Linked DNA regions of Homo sapiens. The protein of the gene in region 1 purifies or fractionates together with the protein of each later gene. This does not show direct contact. Each region holds a gene or a part of one and is shown on either strand. Other genes may lie near its edges. The genes, in order: OXCT1, ALDH1L1, SDHAF2, WDR1, LYPLA1, C11orf58 and TIMM9.

Region 1 (2,430 bases):
AGGATGAACAAGGCTGGCAACAAGGAGCAGGTGGAAGAGGAGCAGAGGAAAACAAAGGATCCCAATAACCAAGCCCCCTGTCAGATGGATCACTGATCTCCGAGACTGATGCCTCTGAGACTTCACTTAAGACGCAGTACAAACCCCAAGTCTCCAAAACCTCAAAATAGATCCAGCCAATTCATAATTTTGTTGAAAGATGCTTTATGTAATCTTTGGATTACCTAAATACATATTAATGAAGAGACGTATGATCAATGATAAATCTTATCGGAAATTTCATAATCAGAATAGAAATGATACAAAGGCAATAAGAGGATTCCAAGTTATTAAAATATGGAAGTAATAGCATTAAAACAATTAAATGTTGATTATAATTATGTTCAGTGTATAAAACAGTCAATGCTTTCCTGCGAATCTGCAAGCAGAGAAAAGTGACAATGAATGTATATTTAAGGTAGAGCCGGTTGCAGGAGAACCATAAATATAAGTGGTCAGTTTAACTGAGACAGATTTTTCAAAGTGTGGTACCAGGTTCAGATTCCTTAATTCAACATGGCAAATATTGATTGGGTTCTAGTTAGTAACAGTCCCCATGGGAAGCAGGAAATACCAAAAATTGGGTGCTTTTTGAAATTCTGAAAGATGTGGCAATCAAAATGAGCCCAATTAGCATTTTACCTTCCAGAATAAACAATATTTTCTTAAATTGATAAATGAACAAATGAATGAATAAGTAGATAATTATATAAGTTTCAAAGAACTAGAAGGGAGGTTCCTAATAGAGGTTAAATCATCAGTATTAAAAACTGAAAGAACAGGCAGTCATTTGGCTTTCATAAGGTTAAATAGTTTTAGTTCATTTATAAATGTCTGCATTAGCTCTTCACAATTAACTCTTCATAGTATCAAGAGTTAATGTCTTGTCTTCCATTTTTGTACTAAAATATTAAACCAGAATGGCAAAAATGTCTACTAAAAGAATAAATAAGAATAAACAATAATAATAAAGTTCAGCATGATTTGGTATATAGCTTATGGTAAATGAGAACGCATTATGACTTATTTCTAAGAGTAGACATACAGACAAAATAAACAGAATAAGTAGACAAAAAGTAACATCACACATACGCACAGATTTTCAACTCTACTAATAATAACATTTAGTATTTAGATAAGTATATCTCACAGTTCATTTTCTTTCTTTTTTTTAAACAACAGAGCATCTGTGGAAATAATTTAGTGAAACTTTTTTTTTTTTTTTTTTTGAGACGGAGTTTTGCTCTTGTTGCCCAGGCTGGAGTGCAATGGCGCGATCTTGGCTCACCGCAACCTCCGCCTCCTGGGTTCAAGCGATTCTCCTGCCTTAGCCTCCCAAGTAGCTGGGATTACAGGCATGTGCCACCATGACCAGCTAATTTTTGTATATTTAGTAGAGACGGGGTTTCTCCATGTTGGTAAGGCTGGTCTTGAACTCCCGACCTCAGGTGATCCACCTGCCTCAGCCTCCCAAAGTGCTGGGATTACAGGCGTAAGCCACCGTGCCTGGCCCAATTTAGTGAAACTTTTTTACTACAAATCATTTTCTATAGATGCTTCATAGCACTTCCTTTAAAAAGAAACTGGACACATTAATTTTTTTAACTAAACATCTGATCCTTTTCCTTGTCATGTCAGCCCTATTTTGAGCTCTTAATGTCATTTACATTCTCAATGTGAAAAATGACATCAAAAATAAGATAACGCTTTATATAGACTGACTTTGCCTGCTTTTTAATGAAAAACATCTACTAAACCACCATTTCTCATTCTGTTCTCCCAGTCTCATCAACGTTGTAAATTCATGCAAGCCAAAGGAGCTTATTCTGCCAACGTGATCTGCAGGCTAAGCACAAGGTGACATGATTTAGCTATAGAAGACAAGCCAATGATTTGTCTTCCCAGTGCATTAATATCCCAAAAGTATATTGCTTGACTCTGGTAGAATGCCAGTTCATAGTAGATACTGAGAGTATAAATTTATTCAATTAGGCAAGGAATGTCTGCAGCTTCTTTCAGATTCCACTGCAAACATATCAACAAACATTGCTTTTACTAGTTTTTTATTTGTTTGTTTGTTTTGCCACTGGTGGTTTAGGTATATTCCTGCCTGGAGAATAAAGCCAAGGCTCTTGGGAGCAAGAACCATAAATTGGTTCTATTTTATTCATATTTTACAGCTCAATATGGAACATACATTGGGTGTATGACTAGTGACATCTGGAAGTTTATTCTAACACATAATGTTTAAATATGGAATACATTTTTAATTTTTTAAGTTAAGAAGATAAAATCAAAGAAATATTGTTTCAAAAGAGGTCCACAGACATATGGTTTATAAAAACACCTATTTTACATAGCTTAAGCATTCATCAGAAAAGAAACAACCCA
Region 2 (2,259 bases), on another chromosome or scaffold:
CCAGAGTGGTGGGAGTGGGCCAAGGGGGAGCAGGAGGGAGGAGAGAAGGCCTGAGAGGCAGGTAGGGGCCAGATTGAAGGCCCATGGGCCATGGTCAGGGGCTCAGGTTGCATCCTTAGTGTAAAGAGGAGCCATGGGACCAAATGTACCCCCGGGTGAACACCACGGGTGTTGCAAGTCTCCCAGTAGAGGTGAAGTTACTCAGGCGGCAGCAGGCGGGGTCCACCGGCACATAGCAGGCGGGGTCCCCCGGCACACAGCACAGGCTCCCCAGTGCTCTGCCTGCTGGGTGGCATGGAGTTCTGCTCCGGCCCTCTCTCCCTGGGCTGCTCCAAGCCTTGGGCCTCGTCCTGCTCTCTCAGCAGGGGGGACTAGACAGGTCTGATGGGCAAGCTTGGCAAGGGTGGCTGGCAAGGTCCGGGGAAGCCATATGCTGTCTCAGAGGTCCCACCTGTCTCTCCAGGCTCCTGTGCCAGCCCAGAGACCACAGGGAAGGTCATGCTGAGGCTGGGGGTCAAAGGCTGGTCACTGTTTCCAGTTTTCTCTCCTCCCCCTGCCCCCATCTTTCAAGCCCTGCAGAAGCCCCCAAGGGTACCCATGAGAGGGGCCCATGTGTGCCCACAGGGCTGGACTCACATGCACGCATGTGTAGGCTGGACACTCCTGCTTCCTCTGTCCCTGTCGGCCTCCTCTTCCTGCCTTCTCCCAGGCCACCTTCCTGGTGTCCACCAGGGGAATCCATGAGGCCCATGGCCACCCAGGGAAGGCTGTGGCTGCCAAGTCCCCAGGACGTGATCTGGGCCCCTTATGAATCCTCCCCGAGTTCCCTCAGCTCCCTCCTAACCCTAGTCCCCATGTCCTGCTGAGAGGACCAGCACCCTCCTGGGACAGGCCCACAAGCCAAGCCTTCCAAGCAGCCTGCCTGGGCAGACTCAGGACCTCAGAGGGACGGGGCAGTGCCACTCCTGGGGCCAGCCAGAGCTGCTGGGGAGCTGTCAGGCAGCCCCAGGCCTCACACTTGTCATGGGGCTGAGATGCACCAGCCACATAGCACTGCCAAGGCCTGGGGCCTCAGGGCCCTGCGAGGCATCCCCTTTTCCCAGCCACAGCTTGATGCAGACGTAGCTGGGGGCAGCCATGAGAGAAGAGATGGGCCAGTGAGTCTGGGCAGTAACGCCAAGTCTCTCCACCCCCTTCCACCTGAAGGGGCTTCCCACTGTCCAGACAAGGCGGTGGGAGCTGGGGAAGATTCTTAAATGGCTGCCTCAGATTGGCTTTGTATTCTGGGGAGTCCTGGCCCACTATCCACTGCCAGGGATAACCTGGGTAAGATTCATGACCTCGCTGGGCCTCGACTTCTCACCTGGAAGTGGGGTGAGCCAGAGCTGCCCCCACGTGGTTGCTGAGGAATAAGACACTTGCAGCCCCGAGCAGTGCCCTGCCTGTGGTGGGAGCTGCTGTGACCTTTGTGGTGTCTTACAGGAGAGGCGGCTCTGAACGAGTACCTGCGGGTCAAGACAGTGACCTTCGAATACTGAAGAAAGGTCTTTGTGAGAAGAAAGTCCCTGCCCCTCCCTCGTGGCTGGGGCCCCCTCCCTCTTGAGCCTGGGTGCACAGCACCTCCCACCTGGGGGGCTAGTGGAAGCCCTCCTGCCTGCACACCATGTCTGCATCTTGGACGCCCTCTGTCCAGTCAGAAGCAGCCCTTGGCTGGGTGAGGTGTGCCCCTCCCAGGGAGAATAAAGCTTCTGAAGAGAGACCGTCCACATCTCTGCGTTTCTCTGCTCCACCTGTGGGTGTTCCTGGGTGGGCCTGGAAGTTGCGCAATCACCTGGGTATGATGGTGTTGCTTGGCCTGGGAGAGCCAGACACCTGGGGAGAGAGACAGGAGGAAATGGGTGTGGGTCATCTCAGGCCCCAAAGAGCAGAAGCTGCGACAGTCAGGGCTGCAGGAGGTTTGGAAGGGTAACCCCTGGGAAACAGGTGGGAAGACGGGGATTGAGCTGGGTGAGCCCTGGACTGGGAAGCAGCTCAGACTCCCTCAGCAGATGGGGCCGGGCCCTCGCCCCTGCTCTGTCAGCACGGCCGTGCTCTCAGCTGGTAGCCAGCCCGAGGGCCTGCAGTGGAGGGCTGGGCCCAGCTGGGAATGCCAGGCAGAGCTGTCTTCCGTCTGACACGGTGTCTCCTATGTACCTTTATGGCTTCTCCTTGGCCCAGGGACCTGAGCTATAGCTCTCTTTCCTGTGCCCTCTCCCTGTA
Region 3 (3,500 bases), on another chromosome or scaffold:
AGGCTGGTCTCGAACTCCTGGCCTCAAGTGATCCACCTGCCTCGGCTTCCCAGAGGAGGAGCATGTGATCTCATGCTGAAATTACAGGCATGAGCTACCACACCTGGCCCTATTATAAAGTTAAACATATACACTTACCACATGACCCAGCAAATCCTTCTCCTGAGTATTCACTCAAGAAAAACTAAAACCTATGTTCACAAAATCTGTATGCAAATGTTTACAGTGGCTTCATTTATAATCACCTAAAGCTGGAAATAATCCTAATGTCCCTCAGCTGGTCAAAAGATGAACAGACCATGGTACATCCACACAATGGAATATTACTCAACACAAAAGAATGAACTATTGATACAAGTAACAACAAGGATACGCATCTCAAATGCATTATGCTAAGTCAGGGCAAACTTGTTCTGTAAAGGGTTGGAGAGTAAATATTTGGACTTTGTTGGCTTTCCAGTGATTGTATAAGGCTCCAGACTCTGTCTTATCACTCTTCATACCTGGAACCCATAGACAATGGCTGCTACTTTCTGATACAAATATTGAGTGGAGACACAAAAACAGCAGTCCCGGAGTGTGGCAGAATGAATGACACGTCCCCTAATATCCAGTTTTCATCGATAACAGAATCTCCAACACAGCTGGGCAGATGGAATAGACTATATTATTTTTCCTTATGGTTAGACGTAGCCAAGTAACTAAGCTGTGGCCAATGGCAAATAAGTGGAAGTATGCTGGATAATTTCCTGAGCGGGATCTACAAAGGAGGGGTATGCACTTCCACACACTTTTTCCGGGCTGAAATATGGCTGTCCTGGATCAAGAAGTAGAAAACACATGCTAGGATGAAAGAGCAGCAAGTAGGGGGGACCTGGACCCATGACTTTTTGAAGCCCCTCTATGAGCTCTGGAGTGTGCCTTCCTCTGGACTTCTGTCATGAGAAAGACAGTTCTACCTTGTTTAAGCCATTACTGTTTTGGATGTTTTTTTACTCATAGCCAAAGTTAATCCTAACTATACACAGTTAGAATTCATTCCTCATAAAGGTAGTGCCTGAATGAAACTTTTTTTTTTTTGAGACATAGTCTCACTCTTTTGCCCAGGATGGAGTGCAGTGGTGCAATCTCAGCTCACTGCAATCTCTGTCTCCCAGGCTCAAGCGATTCTCTTGCCTCAGCCTCCCAAGTAGCTGAGACTGCAGTTGTCCGCCACCATGTTCGGCTAATTTTTGAATTTTTGGAGAGATGAGGTTTCGCTGTGTTGGCCAGGCTGCTCTCAAGCTCCTAACCTCAAGCGATCCATCCGCCTCAGCCTCCCAAAGTGCTCAGATTAGAGGCATGAGCCACTGCGGCCGGCCAGAATGAAACTATTGAGGAGCTTTGGCTATGCAGACTTAGTTGTCTGATTCCACTCCATTCCCAGAGTGGTTCTTCTTCAACCTTTGATACTGTGAGCTTCATATACCCTTCCACTAAATTCCTTTTTGCTTAAGTGAGACAAACAAGTTTCCACTCTGTCTCGCAAATAAAGAACTTTAACTGATAAATTTTGTACACTTAACAAAAATTTGAACAGTGTTTGGGTTGAGTGTCTACTTCATGAATAAAAGAAAAAAATTATAAGCCAGGCACAGTGGCTCATGCCTGTAATCCCAGGATTTTGGGAGGCCGAGGCGGGCGGATCACCTGAGGTCAGGAGTTCGAGACTAGCCTGACCAACACAGAGAAACCCTGTCTCTATTAAAAATATAAAATTACCCGGGTGTGGTGACACATGCCTGTAATCCCAGGTACTCAGGAGGCTGAGGCTGGAGAATCGCTTGAACCTGGAAGGTAGAGGTTGCAGTGAGCCGAGATCATGCCATTGCACTCCAGCCTGGGCAACGAGAGTGAAACTCAGTCTCAAAAAAAAAAAAGAAAGAAAAAAATTATCTAGGATACAATTCTAGACTCAAATCAGCCTAAACTGTCCTATTTTCACATTATGCTGCTTATCATACCCAGTACCTGTGGCCCAGTAGTAAATATCCCAGTCATTACTAGGCTCGTTAATCAGGCGGTCATAGAGGTTCAGCTGCTTTTCTGTCATGTGCTGCAGATGTTCTTTAGCAAAAAGACTAAAAACAAGAAAGAAAAAAAGAAAAAGAGGTTGAGAAGGCTGTGTCTAATAAAAGAGAAGTGACACCAAGACTCCTACTCCTGGGAGTCTCTCTGAACCTACTCTGGCTCAGGAAGCTGCCCGATTTAAAAAAAAAGACTCCTAGTCCCATACCTAAGAAGAATGCAGTTTTCCAACATTCCCCTCTTTCTGCTCTCATAGAGCAGGCGGGCTCTTTTGGTTTCTATGGATTCATCAGTTCTCTCCTGCCATGGAGGCAAAGGGATTTCAATCATGTCCTTTTGGGAATCTGTTGGGCTGTCACCTCTGTAGAAGCGTCTGAATGATGTCACACTGAGCAAAGGAGACAATAGGCTGTGCCTTGACAGAGCAAGCATCTGAAATGAACAAACCACAAACATCTTTACAATAATGACGACTATCATCGCTATCATTTACTCAATGCTTACTAGGTGCTGAATGCATTCAATCACATTTAGTCATGAGGAAATTACACTGCTGGCCAGGCGTGGTGGCGCACACCTGTAATCCCAGCACTTTGGGAGGTCAACGCGAGCATGATTACTTGAGTTCAGGAGTTCGAGACCAGCCTGAGCAACATAGCGAGACCCTGTCTCTACCAAAAATACAAAAATTAGCCAGGCATAGTGGGGTAGTCCCACCATGGTGCCTGTGGTCCCAGCTACTCAGGAGGCTGAAGTGGGAAGATCATCTGAGCCTGGGAAGGTCAACGCTGCAGTGAGCTGTGATCGTACCACTGCATTCCAGCCTGGGCAACGGACCCTATCCCCCTGAAAAAAGAAAAGAAATTATGCTGATATTGTCCCCACTTTATAGCCAAGGAAACAGAGGCTCAGGAAGGTTCAATAACTCACCCAAAATCATCCAAATAGTAACTGCAATTAGAATTAAAACACAGTCCTAACTGCAAATGTGTCCCTAACCAGTGCCTTTCCAGAAACTATCCCAGCAGAAATAATTTTTCCTTCCTTTGCACTCCCTTAAAATTCTTACAGTGTGGTTTATACTCTACTCACTCACCTGTGTCAAATCCTGAGCACACAGAGACAGCATGATCCCTAATCCCCCAAAGGCTCCCAATCCAGAGAAGTTGACAACTTATCAAGATATGATGTCAAGGTGGTGACCTCAGCAAGAGGTGAAGATGGTGGAGTAGGAAACCCCAGATCCTCCTTCCCCGATGGAGACACTGAGCCAACAGCAACAAACAAACCAATTCCCTGTGAGAAATCCAGAAACCAGTAAGAGGCTCCTGCTCCCCAGGTGAGCACAAAACCAGCTGCATCGAATCCAGCAGAAAAATTTGTAGCACTCATTTGCCATAGTCTCTTCCCTCCCTGCTCAAGCATGATCATGA
Region 4 (2,481 bases), on another chromosome or scaffold:
TTTTTTTTTAATTGGGATTGCACATTTAGACAACTTTACAATTGTTACAAAAGTACAAAAGGCAGTTTCAAAGAACAGTGCCTTTCACTTTGCAATGAATTTGGATGTTTGGGAATTTGATTTTTAACATCTAAATGCATGCTATTCCTTACCTGAAAGCTATACAGGCTGCTAAGAATTTGAGAAGTAGATGGGATGCAGACATCATCTGGTCCAGTGTTTTCAGTTGACAAAGAAACTTAGGCTCAGAGAAGGGCAGGGATGTGACCCAGGTCAGAGGGTGATCTGGCGGTATGGTTGGGAGCAGGAACCGAGGGTTCCAGCCCCTTCTCTGGGGCTTCCCTTCCACCACATGATGGATCTGACAATCCTGTGTTCCAAACATTTCCTGCCTGAGGCTGCAGACTGGTAAGACCTCTAAAGCCATGAAAATCCCACAAACGTTCCTCCCCACCCAGCCGCCCCACACACCCCCATCACACAAAGTCAGTGACCCACAGTGAAGAGAAAAGATATTTAATTATTTCTCAGGCTAATCTCTTAAAGCGCTCAAAGTGTTTTCACAAGTGCAAGGGGAGGGATTGTTCTCAGCCAACATTTACCAGTGATTCCGACACACGCAAAAACACTCCCAATCACGGTGCTTTATACTTACTTTTAATTTCTGCACTGAAAAAGAAAAGGAAGGTAAAAACAATGACAGATTAGTTTACAGTGACTTCATCTTTGTCCTTAAATTAACCTTTGCTCTTGAGAGCAGAAGAGGGAAAGACAGGGGAACATCAAAGCATGATGGTGAAACGGTGACCAGGACACCTCGGTCTGGCTAACAAGGGTTCTAAAAACTTGGACACGGTGCCGTCAACGCACTAGTTTGTAAACACTGACAGGCAACAGTTAAGATACATTAAAAAAAAAGGAAAGATACCCACAATTCCATTCTTAAAATCAAGCACAAAATCTGACAATGAAACATATCCAGGGGTTGTGTGTCCCCATCTGATCTGGAGGTGGCGCTCTGAAGGCAGCCACAAGGTGTGAGTCACACACTAGGGAGACAGACATCTGTTCAACACAGAATTCCGGCTTTGCTGAACTGCAATGCATATTCCCTCTTCTCACTAGTACAGAAATGTTCTGCAGGCAGGAACATGAGCCCCCCGGCTCATTCACCTGTACAACCTCCCCTGACAGATAGTGAGAGCCGCGGCGGGGCCAGGGGCTCTGTGTGCTTTGGAGGCTACTGCCTCTGGAATGTTTCGCATTCTCAAGGTTTGGTTGGGCTGTGGGTTTTAGTTATGCTCCACACATTGTTTAGGTGCTCGCTTTATTTTTCATGTGCAAACTGTTACTGTCTAAAGCTTTCAGAAGAACGTGTACAGACACCCTGCAGAGACGAGGGTCATGACTGGGCCCTCCTGCCTCTTGTGGTGGGGTGGGGGCATGGGGGCGCGTCACAGAAATAGAGAAATGACATGTTCCGCTGCAGTTAAACTCTAGTCCCTGATTCGGTCCATCCAGAGGCGGGGGTGGGGCTCCTCAGTAGGTGATTGTCCACTCCTTGACAGAGGCATCATGGGAGGTCGTGACCAGCGTGTGCTCGTCCAGCCAGGCCAGGCTGCTGACATGGTGCAGCCGGTGTGCATCTGGGAAGAAAGGGTGCAATTTAACGAAAAGCCAAACTTCTCTGCAACTATGTACATCTTGGACTAGGAAGATGGAACAACCTGTGCCTAAATCATCTCCAGGGCCAAGAAAATGGCCACGAATCGTTGTAACTCAGGAGCCTGGCACGGTGGCAGTGTGGCTGAATTCTCCACGTGACACTCCTGAACCCCGGGGCCGGGTACCTCTTTTTTGTGTGCTGCAGGGTAATTAGCAGCATCCCTGGCTCCACCTACAGATGCCAGTGGCTCCCTCTCTCCAAGTCTTGACAACCAAGTTCCACAGGAGTGAAATAACAATGTCTTCTTATGTATAAAAGCGATGACATGCAGACACCACACAAACAGCTACACTGTATCCATGCCCTATTAAAATGGGGCAGGCATGACAACCAGTAAGAGGCTGGAACACACAGGACTGGGGGGGCCACTGACTTTCCCCTCTGTGACAGTCACACCGTGGGTGAACAGATTCGATTCCCCATAATCTTGCCTCCACCCAACCGAGATGCCAATAGTGAGACGGTGCCTGTGCGCTTATGGCTCCTCTGTGGCTAGCTCTGCCCATGAAGCCCAGGGAGGCTCCCAGCTGCAGGCAAGGGGGTTCCCACCAGCTCTCTGCTCCCCAGGTCCGGGTGGCCCCCAGCCTCTAGATCTGCAGCCCCACCTAGACAGGGTGAGATTCAGCCCCCACCCCTGCCTGGCACGGCATACATCCTGATGAAGGAAGCCTTGGCCTGCGGGTGGCACAGGTGCCCAGGAGCGCCTTCAACCACCAAGCATGACTTGGCTGTGAGGCCAGGCTTTAGCACTCTGT
Region 5 (3,500 bases), on another chromosome or scaffold:
TGAATAGACATTTCCGAAAAGATGACATAAAAATGGCAAACAGGCATATGAAAAGGTGCCCAACATCACTGATCGCCAGCAAAATGCAAATCAAAACTACAATGAAATATCGTCTCACCCCAGTTAAAATGGTTTTTATTCAAAAGACAGTTAATAGCAAATGCTGGCAAGGATGTGGAGAAAAGAGAACCCTCATACACTGTTGGTGGGAATGTAAATTAGTACAACTACTATGGGGAACAGTTTGGAGGTTCCTCAAATAACTAAAAATTGAGCTACCATATGAACCAGCAATCCCACTGGATATATACTCAAAAGAAAGTATCTTTCTTTTAACTATATTTGGGTATATATCTTTTGGGATATATACCCAAAAGAAAGGAAATCAGTATATTGAAGAGATATCTGTACTCCCATGTTTGTTGTAGCACTGTTCCCAATAGCCAAGATTTGGAAGTAACCTATGTGTCCATCAACAGATGACTGGATGAAGAAAATGTGGTACATATGCACAATGAAGTACTATTCAGCCATAAAAAAAGAATGAGATCCAGTCATTTGCAACAACACAAGTGGAACTGGAGATCATTATGTTAAGGGAAATAAGCCAGACACAGAAAGACAAACATTGCATGTTCTCACTTTTTTGTGGGATCTAAAACTAACTGAACTAACAGACACAGACAGTAGTAGAAGTATGGTTATCAGAGGCTGGAAGGGTAGAAGGGGGCTGGAGGTGAGGTGTAGCTAGTTAATGGGTACAAAAAAAATAGAATAAGACCTACCATTTGACAGTACAATAGGGTGACTATAGTCAATAGTAACTTAGTGTACATTTTAAAATAACTTACAAGAGTGTAAATGGATTCTTTGTAACTCAAAGGATAAACGCTTGAGGGGATGGACACCCCATTCTCCATGATGTGCTTATTTCACATTGCATCCCTGTATCAAAACATCTCACGTACATATAAATATGTACACCTATGTACTCACAAAAATTGAAAATAAAAAAATAAAATTTTAATTAAAACTTCAATAATTTCCCATTAAATATTTTGTTAACAACAGTTCTTTCTCTCATCAAGAGATGGATTTTTAAAAAATTAATAGTTAATTCTGCTCATATATATTCCATGTTTCTCTCTTCAATGAACCATAGGCATTTGTACCTAAAAGTTGTCATTTTAAAATTGTACGTAGTTAAGTGTTTAAAATTGTACGTAGTTAAGTGTTGTACGTAGTTAAGTTAATGGTTTAAAAAGTGTTTAAAACCATTCATTCTATTGTTTTTTAAAAAAAATCACAGAATTGGCCAGGCACAGTGGCTCACGCCTGTAATCCCAGCACTTTGGAAGGCTGAGGCCAGCAGATCAACTTGAGGCCAGGAGTTTGAGACCAGCCTGGCCAACATGGTGAAACACCGTCTGTACTAAAAATACAAAACGTAGCCGGGCATGGTGGCACAGGCCTGTAGTCCTAGCTACTTGGGAGGCTGAGACAGGAGAATAACTTGAACCCAGGAGGTGGAGGTTGCAGTGAGCTGAGATTGCGCCACTGCACTCCAGCCTGAGCAAGAGAGCAAGACTCCATCTCAAAAACAAACAAAAAAAAACCAGAATAAATCTCTTTTGCTCGCTCACACTCTCTCTCTGTGTCTCTGTCTCTGTCTCTCTCTCTCTCTCTCTCAAAACAGGGTCTCACTCTGTTGCTGACCTCTCAGGCTCAAGCAATCCTCCCACCTCAGACTCTCAAGCAGCTGAGGGGGCCACAGACATGCGCCACCACGCCCAGCTAATTTTGTTTTTTTTTTTGTAGCGACTCTTGCCCAGGCTGGTTTTGAACCCCTGGGCTCAAGTGATCCTCCTGCCTCAGCCTCTCAAAGTGCTAGGATTACAGGTATGAGCAACATCCCTTGGCCTCAATCACCTTTCACCTAAGGGTAAGGGCACTATGTACCCCCAACTATGTAACCTGAGCACTGTCTTCTTTGTTCAGTAGCACATTCTCTTTTGTTTTTTCTTTCCTGGCTGAGTCTGATTCTAATTTTCTCTGAGAGGAATTTTCAGAGAGGAAAGAAGTAACAAGTATTTCATAGGCCAACTCTATTGTTAGGACAGAATCTTTCATTCTGGACCTCATGAGGCCCACGTATCTTCTTCACAGGGCCCAGGCCCTCCCTGTTTTCCATAGCATCTAACACTTACCCTCATACTTTTGTCATCTATTATTTTCAGACAAAATCCCAACTCTAGGATTCTAACTCTAATCTACTTTTTAATGATCCCATAAGTCAGTGTTGTTGGTTTGACATTCCCAAATATCTCACATCTTTTGAATGTATTTTCCCTGTTTTTTTTTTTTTTTTGAGACGGAGTCTCGCTCTGTTGCCCAGGCCGGACTGCGGACTGCAGTGGCGCAATCTCGGCTCACTGCAAGCTCCGCTTCCCGGGTTCACGCCATTCTCCTGCCTCAGCCTCCCGAGTAGCTGGGACTACAGGCGCCCGCCACCGCGCCCGGCTAATTTTTTGTATTTTTAGTAGAGACGGGGTTTCACCTTGTTAGCCAGGATGGTCTCGATCTCCTGACCTCATGATCCACCCGCCTCGGCCTCCCAAAGTGCTGGGATTACAGGCGTGAGCCACCGCGCCCGGCCATTTTCCCTGTTTTAAAGACCTTAAAGAGTTCTTTTAAAACAAAAGGGCTGCGCTCAGTGGCTCATGCCTGTAATCCCAGTACTTTTGGGGAGGATCACCTGAGGGCAAGAGTTTCCCACCAGCCTGGACAACATAATGAGAATTCATCTCTACAAAACAGTTTAAAAATTAGCCAGGCATGGTGGCACATGCCTGTAGTCCCAGCTACTCAGAAGCTGAGGCGGGAGAGTTGCTGGAGACCAGGAATTTGAGGCTGCAGTGAGATATGATCACCAACTGTACTCTAACCTGGGCGACAGTCTCTAAGTAACTATGTAAATAAAAAATTACCAAAAAGCAAAACAATTCACAGCCAGCCTGCCTTGCCATTGCTGCCCACACCCACCTACACCCACCCACACTCAAGAGTCACCAACCAGATTTTCCTGAAGGCAATCCCAGTCCTCACATTATTATACTTGTCAATATTTCAGTACACATATGTAAAAGAAAAGCACATTCCTGTGCACCTGTGCATTTCTTTCTTTCTTTTTTTCCTGAGACGGAGTTTCACTCTTGTTGCCCAGGCTGGAGTGCAACAGTGGGATCTCAGCTCACTGTAGCCTCTGCCTCCCAGGTTCAAACAATTCTCCTGGCTCAGCCTCCCAAGTAGCTGGGATTACGGGCAGGCGCTACCATGCCCGGCTAATTTTGTATTTATAATAGAGACGGGGTTTCTCCATGTTGGTCAGCCTGATCTCGAACTCTCGACCTCAGGCGATCCGCCTGCCTCAGCCTCCCAAAGTGCTGGGATTACAGGTGTGAGCCACCGTGCCCGGCCTCCTGTGCATTTGTTAAAAATAG
Region 6 (3,500 bases), on another chromosome or scaffold:
TGAAAAGTACTTGCTCTCATGTTGCTTTGGTCCAAAAGAGTAGAGCTAACTCAGTAACAGGAAACTAAGTACCCAATCTTTTGCCAAAATTAATTTAGATTGTGACTGGCAGCAGAAATATCCATAATGAACAGCTCTACTATAACAAAGAATAATTAAAGAATACTTTTCGTGAACATATCACAGTATCAAATACATTTTTATAAGAGAAAAATATGAAGGAAATGATAAAATAGCTATCACAAACAAAAAGAAGCATTTCCCCCATAAGGTGAATTAGAGGGTTGATGATGCTAATATGAAAGGAAGTTGAGTACTGTATTTATTTCTTATTTTATACAACTCTTACTCTTTACAAAAATGGTTATAGTCATGCCCATAAAAGTGTAACCCATGGCATTTGAAAGCAAACACTCTTTGTAATTATTTAAAAGGGCCTTTTTAAAAATTATAATACAAAGGTCTGTGCTCTATAAGCAGTCCTCCACTGTGCATTGTAACAATAAGGCTTACTTTTAATACAAAGACTAAGCGTTTGGGAGTTATGAACCACTGGATTTAACAAACATCATTTTATAATTGCTTTTTGCATCTTTTTTGTTTTTGGGATCCTCCACTTCATCAGGGTGCTCAGCAGCTTGGAGTTCTTCAGCAGATTCTTCTTTCTCTGACTCTGAATCGCTTTCAGAATCATCTGGACTTTCAGGATCAGGTGAATCATCATCGTCATCATCATCATCTCCAGCCACATCACCTTCTCCATCATGGTCTTCTACCTAAAACATCAATCAACAGGCTCTTTTAAAAATAAACATTAGCCCATACAAAATCTGAGAAAGACCGTAAGTTCTGTCGGTCTTAGAAACACTCTACTTTGTAGCCATTAGAACAACAGCTTTAAGACTTGAGTAGAATTTTAAGAAAGAGCTCTGTCTGGCTGGGCCCAGTGGCTCATACCTGTGGCTGGGATTCCAGCTACTCAAGAGGCTGAGAGGCAGGGGGATTGCTTGAGGCCCAAAGTTTGAGACCAGCCTGGGCAACATAGTGAGACCCTGTCTCTTAAAAAAAAAAAAAAAAAAAAAAAAAAAAAAAAAAAAAAGGGAGAGAGAGAGAGAGAAACTAAAAAAAAAAAAAGAAAAAAGAAAAAAATTAGCCAGGCATGGTGGTGCATGCCTGTAGTTCTAGCTACTCGGGAGGCTGAGGTGGGAGGATTGCTTGAGCCTAGGAGTTCAAGGCTGTAGCGAGCTATGATCATGCCACTACATTCCAGCCTGTGTGACAGAGCAAGACTCCATTTCTTAAAAGACAAAAGAAAACAAGAGGGGAGGTGCTCTGAAGATCACACACCTATCTCCCCTCCCCTAGTTTGAAAACCATGGTATTATATTTTCCTGAAAGAAACAATTTTTTAAATTAATAAGGCATGTTAACCACTGACCTTTATGTAGAAATCAGTTATCAATGTTTTGCACATTGTATTACTTTGGAGTAAACAGTAGTCACACATAAATTCATAATATAAAAAGAGATCACTTAGGAAACAACTGAAAAAAAAATAAAAAAGCTCTCCTAAACCATTATTTTAAACCTAAATGAAATATTTTACTTAACTTGTGAGCATGTTGTTGTTCACGCCTATTAAAAATGTGCCCTGGCCGGACATGGTGGCTCACACCTGTAGTTCCAGCACTTTGGAAGGCGGAAAGATCGCTTGAACCCAGGAGTTTTGAGACCAGCCTGGGCAACATAGCAAAACTCCGTCTCTACAAAAAATACAAAAATTAGCTAGGCATGGTGGTGCAGGCCTATATCCCAGGTCCTCAGGAGGCTAAGGTGGCAGTGAGACTGTGCCACTATACTCCAGCCTGGGTGACAGAGTGAGAACCTGTCTCAAAAAAGGGGGAAAGAAAGGTACTCTAATGATTAAGCAGAATTTTCACTTTCAGAAAACACACTTTAAAATCCTTAGAAACAGGCCAGGTGAGGCTGGACATGGTGGTTCAAGCCTGTAATCCTAGCACTTTGGGAGGCTGAGGTGGGCGGATTGCCTGAGCTCAGTAGTTCAAGGCCAGCCTGGGCAACATGGTGAAACCCTATCTCTCCTGAAATACAAAAAATTAGCCTGGTGTGGCGGCATGCACCTGTAATCCCAGCTACTCGGGAGGCTGAGGCAGAATTGCTTGAACCCGGGAGGTGGAAGTTGCAGTGAGCTGAGATGGAGCCACTGCACCCCAGCCTGGGGCAACAGAGAGAGACTGTCTCCAAAAGAAAAATAAAAGGCCGGGTATGGTGGCTCACACCTGTAATACCAGCACTTTGGGAGCCCAAGGTGGGTGGGATCACCTGAGGTCAGGAGTTTGAGGCCAGCCTGGTTACATGGTGAAACCCCATCTCTACAAAAATTGGCTGGGCGTGATGGCAGGCGCCTGTAATCCCAGCTACTCAGGAGGCTGAGGCAGAAGAATCACTTGAACCCGCGAGGTGGAAGACATCACACCACTGCACTCCAGCCTGGTGACAGTGAGACTGCATCTCAAAAAAAAAGGAAAAAACAACCCCACACAAAATCCTTAGAAACATCTCTCCTGATTATCTACAAGACCAGTAGGGCATATACAAAATTATTTTTAAGATAACTACATACAGAAAGCTTTCTACATGGGATTCTTGATTGCTAGGGTAATCTAACAGCAATAAATGGTACCAAATTGAAAACTAATTATCTTCCCAATGAAAATAAGTTAATTACTACCTCACTGAAGCCAAGTCCACAATGTCGCCGATATCTTCCTGATAATTTACTGTCCATACTTTGCTGATATTGAGACTCCAGTTCTTCATTAATTTTCTTGTCTTCTTCCCCTGCATGTCCAGGATACTTTAGTTATGTTTCAGTCAAATTAATAATTTACACAAAAACCCATAATACAGATGCTATTATACTCAGGGCTGATTTATCTAATTGTGACTAATTTTACTATGACTTTTGAGAATTTATGCCATAGGTGGTTACCTAATAGAAAATAAAATGCCTGATGTTGAGATAGCATAAATATTTATTACTAAGCACTTTGGGTATTAAATGTTTTAGCTTACTTATAATAAGTAGATGTTATCCTGAAAGATTTTTTTCTAGTCACCTAATAAAAACTCTCTAACAAACAGAATTATCTATCTTTGAACAAAAACAGTGAAAAAAGCTAGGCACTTCTGTTCAGCAAATGGCTAAATAAAATGGTCATGTACTGACTCTTCTTTATGCCTTTCTTTGCTTATCAAGTTTATCAGAGCAACTTAAAAGTTTAAAGCAGCAGTTTCCAACCTTTTTGGCACCAGGCACCGGTTTTGTGGAAAACAATTTTTCCATGGAGGGGGGTGGTGGTGGTTTTGAGATGATTCAAGTGTATTACATTTATTGTGTACTTTATTATTATCACATCGTAATATATAATGAAATAATTGTACAACTCACCATAATGTAGAAGCAGTGGGAGCCCTGA
Region 7 (2,537 bases), on another chromosome or scaffold:
TATCATATTTGACTGTCAGCTTTTGAACAAAACACAAACATGAACTCCATTACAGTATAACAGTCAACTCTTAAACATTCCCAAACTAGGGCAGATGGGATTGTTTCCTGAAGATATACGAAAATGTAGGTAAGATATGTGGCCAGGCGCGGTGGCTCACGCCTGTAATCCTAGCACTTTGGGAGGCTGAGGCAGGCGGATCACCTGAGGTCAGAAGTTCGAGACCAGCCTGGCCAATGTGGTGAAACCCCATTTCTACTAAAAATACAAAAGTTAGCCGGGCATGGTGGCACACACCTGTAATCCCAGCTACTTGGGAGGCTGAAGCAGCAGAATTGCTTGAACTGGGGAGGTGGAGGTTGCAGTGAGCTGAGATTGTGCCGTTGCACTCCATCCTGGGTGACGAAAGCAAAACTCCGTCTCAAAAAAAAAAAAAAAGAAAAGTATATGTAATGCCCACCCTGACACAAGGGAGGCAAGAAAAGGATCATGCATTGAAATGATTAGCAAGTAACTATTTTATGTATTCACCAGCAATTTGAGGCAGACATGAATGAACAGGACTGCTTGGAGGATGATCCTGATTGAAAAACATTTCAACGTATCCACAGTCCAGTGAGAATACTATGGTACCATACAGTATAAACAACTGCTCAGTGATATTTCCATTTATTTTACTTTGAGTAATAAAAATTTTTCTATCTCATACATGATCGAACACATAAGTTGCTTTAAAATTAACAGTCACAATTGAAGAAACAATGGTTTATTTTTCTAATCAAGTGACCAAGCTGCTGAATCATAAGGCCTCAACAAATGTTGCATCTTATTATTTCACTGAACAATAAGACCTTCTATTGTGATTATTCCTGGTAAATAGCAATTTTGTTTCTCCAGCGGTTTCCATTTGCCAAACAGTCATGACAGATGGTTGAACATGGTGGCTACTGCTTTCAGGGGATTCTATCAGATGAGTCCTCATTTCCAATAAAGCAGCTGTTGGCAATCTTTCATCAAAAGTTCATCCATCAGGACTTCTCTATCGTGGTTGGCCAAGGAGTCCTGCTTTGGCTGCCAGGGCTTCATTCTGCTGAATATGATATTCCTGAAATCTCATGGATATTCTTTGTGTCATTTTTAAATATTTCTGTAAGCAATGTTCTGAACAGGTGGTCTAGGAATGAAAAGGGAAGATCCAAGAGGCAACACAAAAATATGAATTTTTTAAAATGCATGTATTCTAAAAGAATCAGTGGGGTAGTTTGCTTTTCTTTGAATATATCTGAGAATTAAATAGTACTAATTGGCAGCAACTGACCATAGCTTTTAATTGATACTTTCATTCACTGACAAGCATTAATATATATTGAATGCCTGCCAGTTTGTAGTCACTAAGAGCAATGATAAGTCTCTGTTTTCAAAAAGCTTCTGGACTAGATTTTCTGCAAGTGTATTAAGTGAAAGCCCACATTCCTGTCTTCTTGTTTCGATTATTAAAATGTAGACCCAGTAGTAAGTTTGTTCCTTTTTAATGAGAAAACAACATTCTTAATTCTCAACCTTTTACTTATTTTAATTTTATTTATTTATTTATTTATTTTTGAGAGGGAGTCTCGCTGTGTCACCCAGGCTTGAGTGCAGTGGCGTGATCTCGGCTCACTGCAAGCTCCGCCTCCTGAGTTCACGCCATTCTCCTGCCTCAGCATCCCGAGTAGCTGGGACTACAGGTGCCTGCCACCATGCCTGGCTAATTTTTTGTATTTTTAGTAGAGACGGGGTTTCACTGTGTTAGCCAGGATGGTCTTGATCTCCTGACCTCGTGATCCGCCTGCCTCAGCCTCCCAATGTGCTGAAGTTCCAGGCGTGAGCCACCGCGCCCAGCCTATTTATTTATTTTTTTGAGACAGGTTCTCTCTCTGTTGCCCAGGGTGGAGTGCAGTGCCTCACTGTGGCCTCAACCTCCTGGGCTTAAGTGATCCTCCTACCTCAGCCCCTGGAGTAGCTGAGACTACAGGCACACACCACCACGCCTGGCTAATTTTTCATTTTATTTTTTAGTAGAGATGAGGGCTGGTGCTTTTTGTTGTTGTTGTTGTTGACAGGGTCTTGCTCTGTCGCCCAGGCTAGAGTGCAGTGGTGCAATCACAGCTCACTGCAACCTCTGCCTCCCGGGCTCAGGTGACCCTCTCACCTCAGCTCCCGAGTAGCTGGGACCACAGGCATGTACCAACATGTCTAGCTAATTTTTTTTTGTATTTTTTGTAAAGACAGGGTTTCACCATGTTGCCGAGGCTGGTTTCGAACTCCTGGGCTCAAGTGATCCACCTGCCTTGACCTCCCAATGTGCTGGGAGTTCAAAGTTACAGTGAGCTATGATTATGCCATTGCACTCCAGCCTGGGTAACAGAGCGAGACCCTGTCTTAAAAAAATAGTTAAGACTTCTAATAGGATGAGGTTTTCAATATGAGCCACCAAAGTCAAGCTTTGTTTTTTCCAAAGCCAACCAGAATTCCCAGGGCCATACAGAAAGGCTGTG

Evidence for each region.
Region 2: the proteins of OXCT1 (region 1) and ALDH1L1 purify together in Homo sapiens (co-immunoprecipitation; one large-scale study listed by IntAct). This does not show direct contact.
Region 3: the proteins of OXCT1 (region 1) and SDHAF2 fractionate together in Homo sapiens (co-fractionation; one large-scale study listed by BioGRID). This does not show direct contact.
Region 4: the proteins of OXCT1 (region 1) and WDR1 fractionate together in Homo sapiens (co-fractionation; one large-scale study listed by BioGRID). This does not show direct contact.
Region 5: the proteins of OXCT1 (region 1) and LYPLA1 fractionate together in Homo sapiens (co-fractionation; one large-scale study listed by BioGRID). This does not show direct contact.
Region 6: the proteins of OXCT1 (region 1) and C11orf58 fractionate together in Homo sapiens (co-fractionation; one large-scale study listed by BioGRID). This does not show direct contact.
Region 7: the proteins of OXCT1 (region 1) and TIMM9 fractionate together in Homo sapiens (co-fractionation; one large-scale study listed by BioGRID). This does not show direct contact.

The regions. Positions count from the first base shown.
Region 1 is NC_000005.10:41,731,996-41,734,425, forward strand, and holds part of OXCT1 (succinyl-CoA:3-ketoacid coenzyme A transferase 1, mitochondrial isoform 3 precursor), read right to left. Parts: intron 1-2,430. UniProt on the Homo sapiens protein: Key enzyme for ketone body catabolism.
Region 2 is NC_000003.12:126,103,070-126,105,328, reverse strand, and holds the end of ALDH1L1 (cytosolic 10-formyltetrahydrofolate dehydrogenase), read left to right. Parts: intron 1-636; exon of another isoform or gene 637-718; intron 719-1,363; exon of another isoform or gene 1,364-1,482; coding exon 1,483-1,538; 3' UTR 1,539-1,759; downstream 1,760-2,259. UniProt on the Homo sapiens protein: Cytosolic 10-formyltetrahydrofolate dehydrogenase that catalyzes the NADP(+)-dependent conversion of 10-formyltetrahydrofolate to tetrahydrofolate and carbon dioxide.
Region 3 is NC_000011.10:61,436,624-61,440,123, reverse strand, and holds part of SDHAF2 (succinate dehydrogenase assembly factor 2, mitochondrial), read right to left. Parts: intron 2,500-3,500; coding exon 2,276-2,499; intron 2,121-2,275; coding exon 2,011-2,120; intron 1-2,010.
Region 4 is NC_000004.12:10,073,839-10,076,319, forward strand, and holds the end of WDR1 (WD repeat-containing protein 1), read right to left. Parts: intron 1,647-2,481; coding exon 1,540-1,646; 3' UTR 501-1,539; downstream 1-500.
Region 5 is NC_000008.11:54,056,948-54,060,447, forward strand, and holds part of LYPLA1 (acyl-protein thioesterase 1), read right to left. Parts: intron 1-3,500. UniProt on the Homo sapiens protein: Acts as an acyl-protein thioesterase. Hydrolyzes fatty acids from S-acylated cysteine residues in proteins such as trimeric G alpha proteins or HRAS.
Region 6 is NC_000011.10:16,752,147-16,755,646, reverse strand, and holds part of C11orf58 (small acidic protein), read right to left. Parts: intron 2,863-3,500; coding exon 2,753-2,862; intron 777-2,752; coding exon 543-776; 3' UTR 1-542.
Region 7 is NC_000014.9:58,407,995-58,410,531, forward strand, and holds the end of TIMM9 (mitochondrial import inner membrane translocase subunit Tim9), read right to left. Parts: intron 1,175-2,537; coding exon 1,040-1,174; 3' UTR 589-1,039; coding exon of another isoform or gene 535-588; 3' UTR 501-534; downstream 1-500. Other genes in the region: TOMM20L (TOMM20-like protein 1), read left to right, coding at 535-588. UniProt on the Homo sapiens protein: Mitochondrial intermembrane chaperone that participates in the import and insertion of multi-pass transmembrane proteins into the mitochondrial inner membrane.